2 separate regions of the Homo sapiens genome follow, and region 1 is linked to region 2. Evidence: fine-mapped expression QTL. A gene starts in region 2. The other region holds a variant in brackets. All regions are shown on one strand. Distances are from middle to middle. Region 1 has its middle 76 kb from the start of FOXD2. Region 2 holds the start of LINC01738 (long intergenic non-protein coding RNA 1738).

Region 1 (4,392 bases), 170 kb after region 2:
ACTCTGAAGGAGAATATGACATAGAGCAAAAGGAAGGGGCAGATGAAATGCCCTCAGTGCTCCTAGAAGCAGGTGAGAGGACATCAGAAACGGGGAAGGGATGAAGGAAGGCTTCCTGGAGGAGGTAGTATTGGGGCTGTACCTTCCAAGAGAAGTGTTTCTACAGGCAAAGAACAGGGTGGAACTGCATTCCAGGTAGCATGCAAAACATAAGCAAAGGCCCAGAGTTTGGGTTAAGGTCACTAGTTGGTGTAGCTGAAGTACAGGGGTTTGACTGTATTGGGGTCAATTCCAGAGATTTTATTGAACCCCATGTTAAATGTACCATGGCAACAACTCTCTTCCCCTCAGTTTCACCATCTATAGAATGAGGCCACTGGAGTCAGTAACCCCTGGGCCCCCTAGTCCCTCCAGAATATGTCATTCTGCAGTGCCCAATCTCCCAGGCTCCTAAACACTTCCACATGTCAACCCTGACCTGGCTCCTTATCTTTGCCTATACAACACAGCCGGCCAGCCCTGCTTCCGCTTGGATGGCCTCCCTGTGGTCCTGGAGTGTACCGCTATTCTAGGGCCACCAGCCAGGTGGCCCCCTCTCCAACAGAAACACAACACCCAGGGTGGTGGGTCCTATGGAAACATCAGCCATTTCCCACCATCCTTCCCTTTTCTCCTCAGGCCTCAGCAGAGCCTGCGGAAAACGTGGGTTTATTTGGGGTCTGCGGGATACAGAGAATGTTATCATTCTCAGGGAACTCCAAGTCCTGGTTTCACTGCTTATTCTGGCCCCTCTCCGTGGATGCTGCAGGCCTATCAGGCAAGGAGGTCTCCCTCCTGCTTTCATACCACCCAGGGCTCCCAGTTCCAAGAGAGGTTTTGGGTTTCAGATAAATGAAGCAAATGCCTAAAGGGGTAGGCAACATCTTTAACTCCTGGAGCAGAGGGCTGAGCAAGGCCGAGGGCTCAAGCTGAGTCATTCCCCATCATGTCCCCTGACCCCCACCCTCGCAGATGGCAGGAATTTGCTTTTTCAAACTGCAATCTGAGAATTCTAGAAGCTTATGATCTGTGGATTCAAGGATCTTCAAACTGATGGAATCTTAGGCTGCCAGAACCTTAAAAATTGTTGAATCTTAGACTCCTAGAACCATGAAATTCTAGAATCTTAGGATCAGACCATTGTGTCCAGGAAAGAGATGGATTCCATGGCTTCCTAGCTATGTAACTTTAGGTAAGTGATTCAATATCTCTATGCTTCCATTTTCTCATCTGTAAAATTGGGTAATAATTGTACCTACTTCCTAGAGTTATTATGTGGTTTGAACGAGTGAATATGTATAAAGCACTTACAACACTGCCTGGCACATGGAAAGCACCAGAGACGTGACAGCTGTAGTTCTAAGATCACACAGCAGGGTAACAGCAGAGTTTGTGCTACAGTCCAGGTCCCTGGCTTCCCTGTCCAGAATTTTTCTGCCATTCAGCCATGCCACCTCTCAAGATCATTAGGAAAGGACCAACCTAGGGACCAGATAGATTTTCAATCATGGCCCAGTGGAGACCCTGCTTTGGAAATGTCCATGCAGGAGACAGGTTTCCCATCACTGAGAAATACAATGGGCAGAACCATGTTTCCTCCCAGAACAAAAAACTTTTGGCAGATGGAGTCAGTGAAAGCCTCTTGCACAATTTAGTGCACTCTCTCAGTGGGCTGACTGGGCTCAGCTAGGTGGTTCTTCTGCCCTACATGTAAGCTGAGGCTGCAGTCTTCAGGGGACTCAATTGTGCTGGAATACCCAAGATGACTCACTCATATGTCTGGCACCTTGTTGGGGATGGCTGGAAGGCTTGACTCAGCTGGGATACTAGGGCATCTAGGTCTCTCCCTCCCCAAGTATCTCCCTCCCTCCATC[C/A]CTCCCCTAGCCTCTCCATATGGTTTCTCCAACAGAGTAGCAGGACTTATTATATCGTAGCTCAGGACTCTCAAAAAGGCAAAAAGAGAAATTGCTGTGTCTTAAAGTTTGGGCCTTTGTGATAAGCAGAATTCTAAGTTCTCCCCCAAGAATCCCACCCACAGTGTACACACCTGAAAACATGTACAAAATCTAAAAATATGATGGAAAAGACACTCCTTTGATTAGGTTACATTATATGGTAAAGTGATGGCATAGATTACATTACACCATGTAAGACTCCATTATAATAGACTGGAGAGAAATTCTCCTGCTGGCTTTGAAGAAGTAAGTGCCATGTTGAGAGAGAACCATGCTGCTAGGACCTTAGGTCAGCTTCCAGGAGCTGAGAGAAATTGCCCAGTTAACAGCCAGCAAGAAAATGAGGGCTTCAGTCCTATAGCCACAAAGAATGGAATCCTGCCAGCAACCTAAACAAGCTTGGAAGAGGACTTATGAGCCTCAGATGAGATTGCAGCCCCAGCCAACACCTGGATTTCAGCCTGGTGAGGCCCTGAGCAGAGAACCTAGGTCTCACTATTGGGAGAACAGCACCAAGCCATTCATGAGAGATCCACCCCCATGACCCAAACACCTCCCTGCCTAGGAGTCATCTCCCAACACCACCACATTTGGGATCAAATTTCAATGTGAGTTTTGGAAAGGACAAACCATATCCAAACCATGGCACACAGCAATCCAGAGACCAGGGCTGGAGGCCAGGTGTCTGGACTCTCAGCCTACGACGACTTCCATTCGGCTCTTGTTTTTAGGTTGAGTGAATAAAATCTGTCTCCTCTGTCCCCAAAGGCAAGGCACTCATTTTGTCTTGGCCTTCTGCCTCTCCTGAGCTCCACCCTATCCTGGTTTTTTGGGGATTCTGAGGCTCACTTTTTACTCCCTGGGTCTGACACGTTAAAAAGAGAAATCAGGAGTCTCCAAGAACTAGACCCCAATACACCTTCACCTCCAGAAAAGGACTGACAGGGTGGAGAAACCTCCCACACACAGCCTACCCAAGACCTGGAGGTTTTGTGGACAGGTGTGCACTAGGAGCTGGAGTCCACCCTGGTGCAGATGTGAGACCTGAATCCCTGACCCACTCTGGGACCTTAGTTAAATTACACCCTGTCTCTTTTCCATTCCTCACCAAAAATGAGGAAAATGCCCTAACAGGTGAGATAAACCAAGTGAATGCCCTTTGTAGACCACAAAGGGCTGATTCCTTGAGCAGAGTTCTTCAAAAGAAAACTTTAGCTCCTGCTTACTGATGTATCGTCCCTCTCTCTCCAATTAAGGACCCAAGCCTCCCACCATTTCAGTCCCCTTGTTCATCTCCTTCCCTTTCTCCAGTGGAAATTCCCAGGAATTCCCAGTCCGAGGAATTCCCAGGAATTCTTATTCTTGACCAAATGTCAACTCCTAAGAAAAACCTTCCTGATCTTCTTGTCTAAAATATCATCTTCCTTCCTGCTGTCTTCTCCTGCTCTTTTTTAATAGCACTTATCAGTGTCTGAAATTATATTAGGCACTTGTTTAGTATTAATTTCCCACACTAGATGATAAGATTAGCAAGGACAAGGATCTGTCTGTTATTCACCACCCAAGAATTTGACAGGTAATAGTGCTCAAAAAGTACTCATTGAACAAATGAATGAATGGAATCAAGACTAAGCACAGTGCAAAACTTCAATGCTGGTCCAGACAGGATTGTGTCTTAAGATACCAGCTGGTTCCATGAGGACTATAATGCAAAGGAAGCCTAACCTGAGCAGCCCACCTCACACTGGCCCCCTCTCCTGATTGCACTTAGAGCCTAAACCTTTCACTGGACACTGATTTACAAATTACTGAGAAAGTTCCTAGATTGTTGACATTTAGGAATAAGTAAGCTCTGTAGGTGTGAGCCTGGTTTATTTCTCTCTCCCAAGTTTACTGAGGGCATATTCACCTTTGTTTCCTTCCCCAGAGTGCCTAACAAGTACTATTTGAATGGTTGTACCTCAATGAATTAATAAATAAGTGAATAAGTGGGTGAAAGAGTAAATGGATGAATGAATGGATAAACAGTGGGTGACTGAATAATTACATGGATGGATGATGGATGGATGGATAGAAAAAAGGAGGGAAGGGTGGATATATTGATGGATGGATGGTTGATGAGTGGATAGTGAGTGAATGACTAGATGCGTGATGGAGAGATGGATCGTTACATGATTAGTGGATGATAGAAGAGTAGATGGATGAAGGGATTGATGGATGGATGGGAAGGATGAATAGATGGATAAAAGTATGGGTGGGAGGGGTATGGTTGGGAGGGAAAGGGTTAGGGTGGGCCAGAATAAGTGAGTAGATAGATTTGATTTACTGTGTCTAAATCTCCAAAGTCACAGAACAGAGGAAGTAGATTTGCTCGTGGACCTACAGGAGAGAGTTAGGA
Region 2 (4,392 bases):
CCCAAGTGTTAATCTCCAGTTGATACCTAACCATCCTCTTCCACTATGCTGTCCCGGTGGGGATTTATGACTGGGTGATGAGCCACCACGTCTCTCTGAACCCCGATGAGGACATGGATAACATCATCAACTCATCACTGAACCATCGTCATCAACCCAGCTTTAATCCCCAAGACTGATAACCATCGGAGGCTGTTAATTCCCAGCAAATTATCTAATCCACATGTTGTCCGATCTGTGTAAACCCAGCCCATGAGGATCATAAAATAAATAAGCATGAAATGGCTTACAGTTTCGAATCTCCTTTCACCTAGATAGGCCAGGCTGCATGATTGCAGCCACTGTCGTGGCTCCCACCTCCTTCCAAGAGGGAATGGGCAGCATGGGTTCCTATGTGGGCCTGCTTGATGCTGTTTCTAGGAGGCCACACACACACCCCTGCCTGTCCCTCCTGCTCTCCCTCCCATATCCCAAATGAAGCCAAGGCTTCGTTTCCCTGATATGTTAATCACTGAAATAGCCTTGTCCTGCAAGACACAGGCATGGTGAATTAAGATGCTGGATGATTTGCAAAACGAAAAGCAAGCTCTCCCTTGAAAAACAGGGGGCTGGTAGGAATTTGTAATGATGAGAGGCAGGCAGAGAGGGGAGACAGAAAAGGAGGTCGGCGGCTCTAGGGGATGTAAGGAACGATAAAATTAGACTGCGTTGTCTAGACATAAGCACAGGGTTACCGAGAGGTTTCGCGCGCGCTTGCACGCATGTGTGTGTGTGTGTGTGTGTGTGTGTGTGTGAATAGGACTGAGCAAGGAGTAGGGCCAAATGGCCTCTAAATCCCTTTTTGCCTCTGAAATTCTTCAAGGCTATGTCTAAAAGCCTATAATTCTAAAATTCTGTAATTCATAGATCTGATACTTCTCTAACAGACACTGTGATTCTAAGGTTCTGTGATTCTAAGAGTTTATAATCCAATGAGTCTGTAATTATAAACTGCTATGATTCTCTAATTCTAAACACTATGGTTCTCTAATTCTACCATTCCATGATGCTAATATCCTCCTGTAATTCTAAGATTCTATCATTGTTTCCTTAATTTAATATTCCACCATTCTCAAGTTCTGTGATTGAAAGAGGTCATGATTCTGTATTTCTATAAATTTATTCTTTTATATTTATAATGCTCTATAATTCTAGTATTCTAGAATTCTGATTTCATAATCCTAAAATTCTAGAATTCTAATGTTTTATGCTACTAAAAATCTAAAGCATTTATATGATTTTTTAAATCAAGTTTTCAAGAATTCCCACAATCTAAGATTCTAACATACTGGGTTTCTAAGACCCTACAATACAATTTTTTTTTTTATTCAATGTTCTGTATTTTGAAGATTAAATGTCAAGGAGTCTTAGTTCTGAAACGTTAATATTATATGCTATCATGATTCCAACATGTCTCATATTTTATGATATCATTATTACAAACACAAAGTCATTTTATCTACAAAATGCAGGAATTAAGCTGCAAGTGACAAAGAATCAAGGGACCTCCACAGCTGTCCTCCTAATCAGATTGGAGCACATCCCATGGCCATGGATTCTTCCTCAGTGGCAAAGGAGACCTGAAGACAGCTGCTTTACCCAGCCAGTGCTCCAGGAGCTGCCTGGAAAGACAAAGGCATGGGAGGTGGGGGCCTGGCCAGGGTCAGGCCGAGGAGTTGGCCCCATGCCTCCGGGAGGCCCCTCCTCAAAAGCCAGGTTTCCAAACATCTGCCAGCATTTGGGTCCCGATTGCTGTCCTTTAAAAGTATCCCTCTCCTTTTCTTGTTCCCCATCAAGGGCTCCCATGACAATCATTTCAAGCAGCTAATGAGTTTCAGATGGGCTTTGGGAGCCAGGGACGGATGGACGCTCAGAGAGGAGGGTTCTTAGGCTGAGTTCCGTGGGCAGGGGGAGGGGTGGGGGTCAGATAGGAGAATGTTTTGTAGCTGAAGTATTAGGGGCCGTCCACCCCTCCCAGGCCTGGGGACAGAACCTGGAAAGGAGCTGGAGCCGTGGTTACGCTGCTTGCTCCTTCCCGCTCGCCCGTGTTGGCTCGCTGTCAATATAGAGACCCACACTCCCTTTCTAACGCCTCACACACTGTTTTGAACCTTGATGAAATAAAGACCCAGAAGCATTATAGGAAACATCGAGGCCTTCTTGAGGCCAAGATGTGATTACTCACCTGCTAATAGAAGGGTCTTTGCAAAAGACCGAAATCGTCCTTGTTGAAATTACATCGTCTGTGATTCTCTCCCCTTCCAGATGCACGGGAGTACATCCAGAGGCTGCTGTCAGCTCTCATGTGGGCCACACCGCCTGGCCCGGGGTGGGGTTGCCTGTGGGGCCCCTGGGCCCCCTGGCACCACACGGGGGCAGCTCAGCAATCCTGCCGTTCCCTGTGCCGGGCTGCTCTCTCCCTTTGGCTCGGGGCTCTGAGGGGGCTGACAGTGACCCCAAAGAGCTTTCTCCCTCTTGTGCCAGGGGATGAGGAGAGGCCAGGGGCTCGGGAGAGGCGTCCCAGCCTTCATTTCCGTAGCATTCAGAGAGCCCAGGGAGCAGCCCGTGCCCAGAACCTGGCCAGGATTATAAGTGGGTTCTGCAGCGTTCTCACTCCCTGGCTGCCCGAGAACTTCCGCTGCTTTCAAGGTCTAATTTATGGATTCACTTAAATGAGCAGAACATTGAGAAAGACACACCAATGCATTTCAGAGGAACTCACACACTCCACAACCCAGCGAGGCCATTCCCTACCAGGAATGTAGGAGGAAGTTCTGCAACAGGATGTGTATAGTTTAGGGTTTGGAGGGGGTCTCTCCTGGCAAGAGAGACCAAACCTTATAATTAAGTAACTCTCCGTTTCCTTTAAGATATCAACAACAACAACCACGTTCTCCCCAGTTGCCTAAACAGGACAAGTCCCCGGTTAAGCAGTTCCTGGTGGTCTGTGCTCACACATGTGCAGAGAGAGAAAAAAATCTGCCTGGAAGCTGGCCTCCCTGGCTTCCCAGCAGCGGGCCACCTCCCTGCTTCGCCGCCACCCCCTCCCCCGTTCGCAATTAGGGGTAATCTTTTGTTGCCTGGAAAGTGTAAAAATCGCCGGCTTTTCTTTTTGCATGCATAATATCCATTTCCCCTCCAAGTGCGTTATTTGGTTTGGGAATTACATCTATTTACAAGAGTAGATGTTGCACAAAGGTTGTGTTTATGTGGAAAATTATATCGGTGACACGGGCTGATTGGCATGTGGAGGCTGGGAGAGCAGGCCTTCTCATCAGCTTGGAATAACAAAATGATTGCATTTTCAGCAAAGCTAATTGATCACATACCTCGCTGGGCTATCTGTTTACTCAAAGGCCATCCAGGCCCTGGGAAGGTGGAGAGAAGAGAGCCCGGGGCCCGTGGTCACTGCCAGGCCGAGCCAGCCAAGGGCTAGTGGGGTGTGGTGTAGACACGGGGCCTGGACAGGTCCTCAGGTGGTGAGGTTGGGCAGGGAGATAGGCTGACTCTGTTCTCCCCGGGGAAACCAGGCCCGTACTTCACACTGGTGACCGTGTCCTTTCTCCAGACCCCTGAAGTCAGTATGGGGCAGCGCAGGTGTGGGGAAGGGCTAGTTGGAGTATGATCTGGAGCCACTGAAAAGAAAAGACAAGTAAATTCCCTTCTCTCATCCATTGGAAAAGCAGTGGGCTTTAAGGTGGTGCTGAGCTGGCTGCACAGGGCTCGTGGGAGTGAAAGCTCTGGAAACCTGTCTCCATGTGTCTGTCTTGACTGAGTGACTCTGTCTTTGCTCTTCTCTGGGGAGCTCTAGATCAGGGGCCAGGACTGGGACTAGGAGGATGGATGGGAAAGAGGGACGTTATGGGGTGGGGGATGCTGTTAAGGAGTACATTCAGCTTCCAAATCTGCAGACAGTGAAACCTGAGCCCAACCCTCTCTGACACCCTGCCGGAACAGATCTTGCTCCTGCCTTTGGGGAAGGAGGTGCTTATCTTTAGGTTTGTGATAAAAATTCCTGGCCCTGGGCTGACTGAGCCTGTGCGAGGTCTCCTAAGAAGATATTACCTCCTCTTCATTGACCCACACCAGCCAGGCCTCTTGGACCAAACAGCTGAAGCCACCTAAAAAAAGCCCGGAGTTAGAATTGTATTTCCTCCCCAGGGTTAAAACTTCAGTTATGTGGGGGCAGAAAACAAAACAGTTGGATATAGTTAAGCAAGTACTTGAATTGAAAATGGCCAGTTATTTGAGAAACAACTTGTCCGCAATTCACCAAGAAACATTAATTTACCAGTCACTTTGCAAACATGAAGTTCCTTTGAAAACTACTGGTTTAAAACAATCTGATATCCC

Evidence for each region. PIP is the estimated chance that this variant, and not a neighbour inherited with it, causes the effect. A credible set is the group of variants that fine-mapping cannot tell apart.
Region 1: its variant is the best candidate, but not a certain one, in a credible set for the expression of LINC01738 in tibial nerve (GTEx, PIP 0.71).

What each region holds. Positions count from the first base shown.
Region 1 is chr1:47,511,772-47,516,163 of GRCh38, reverse strand. No RefSeq gene overlaps it. Among named protein-coding and RNA genes, the nearest start is that of FOXD2, 76 kb to the right of the region's middle. The variant C/A (reference allele first, on the strand shown) is at 1,914.
Region 2 is chr1:47,686,415-47,690,806 of GRCh38, reverse strand. It overlaps LINC01738 (long intergenic non-protein coding RNA 1738), which reads right to left and starts at 2,309. Exons shown (of 3, transcript XR_001738040.3): 1 at 2,225-2,309. It overlaps LOC124904174 (a long non-coding RNA gene), which reads left to right. Exons shown (of 2, transcript XR_007066067.1): 2 at 1-286. RefSeq lists enhancers at 2,590-3,278, 3,279-3,967.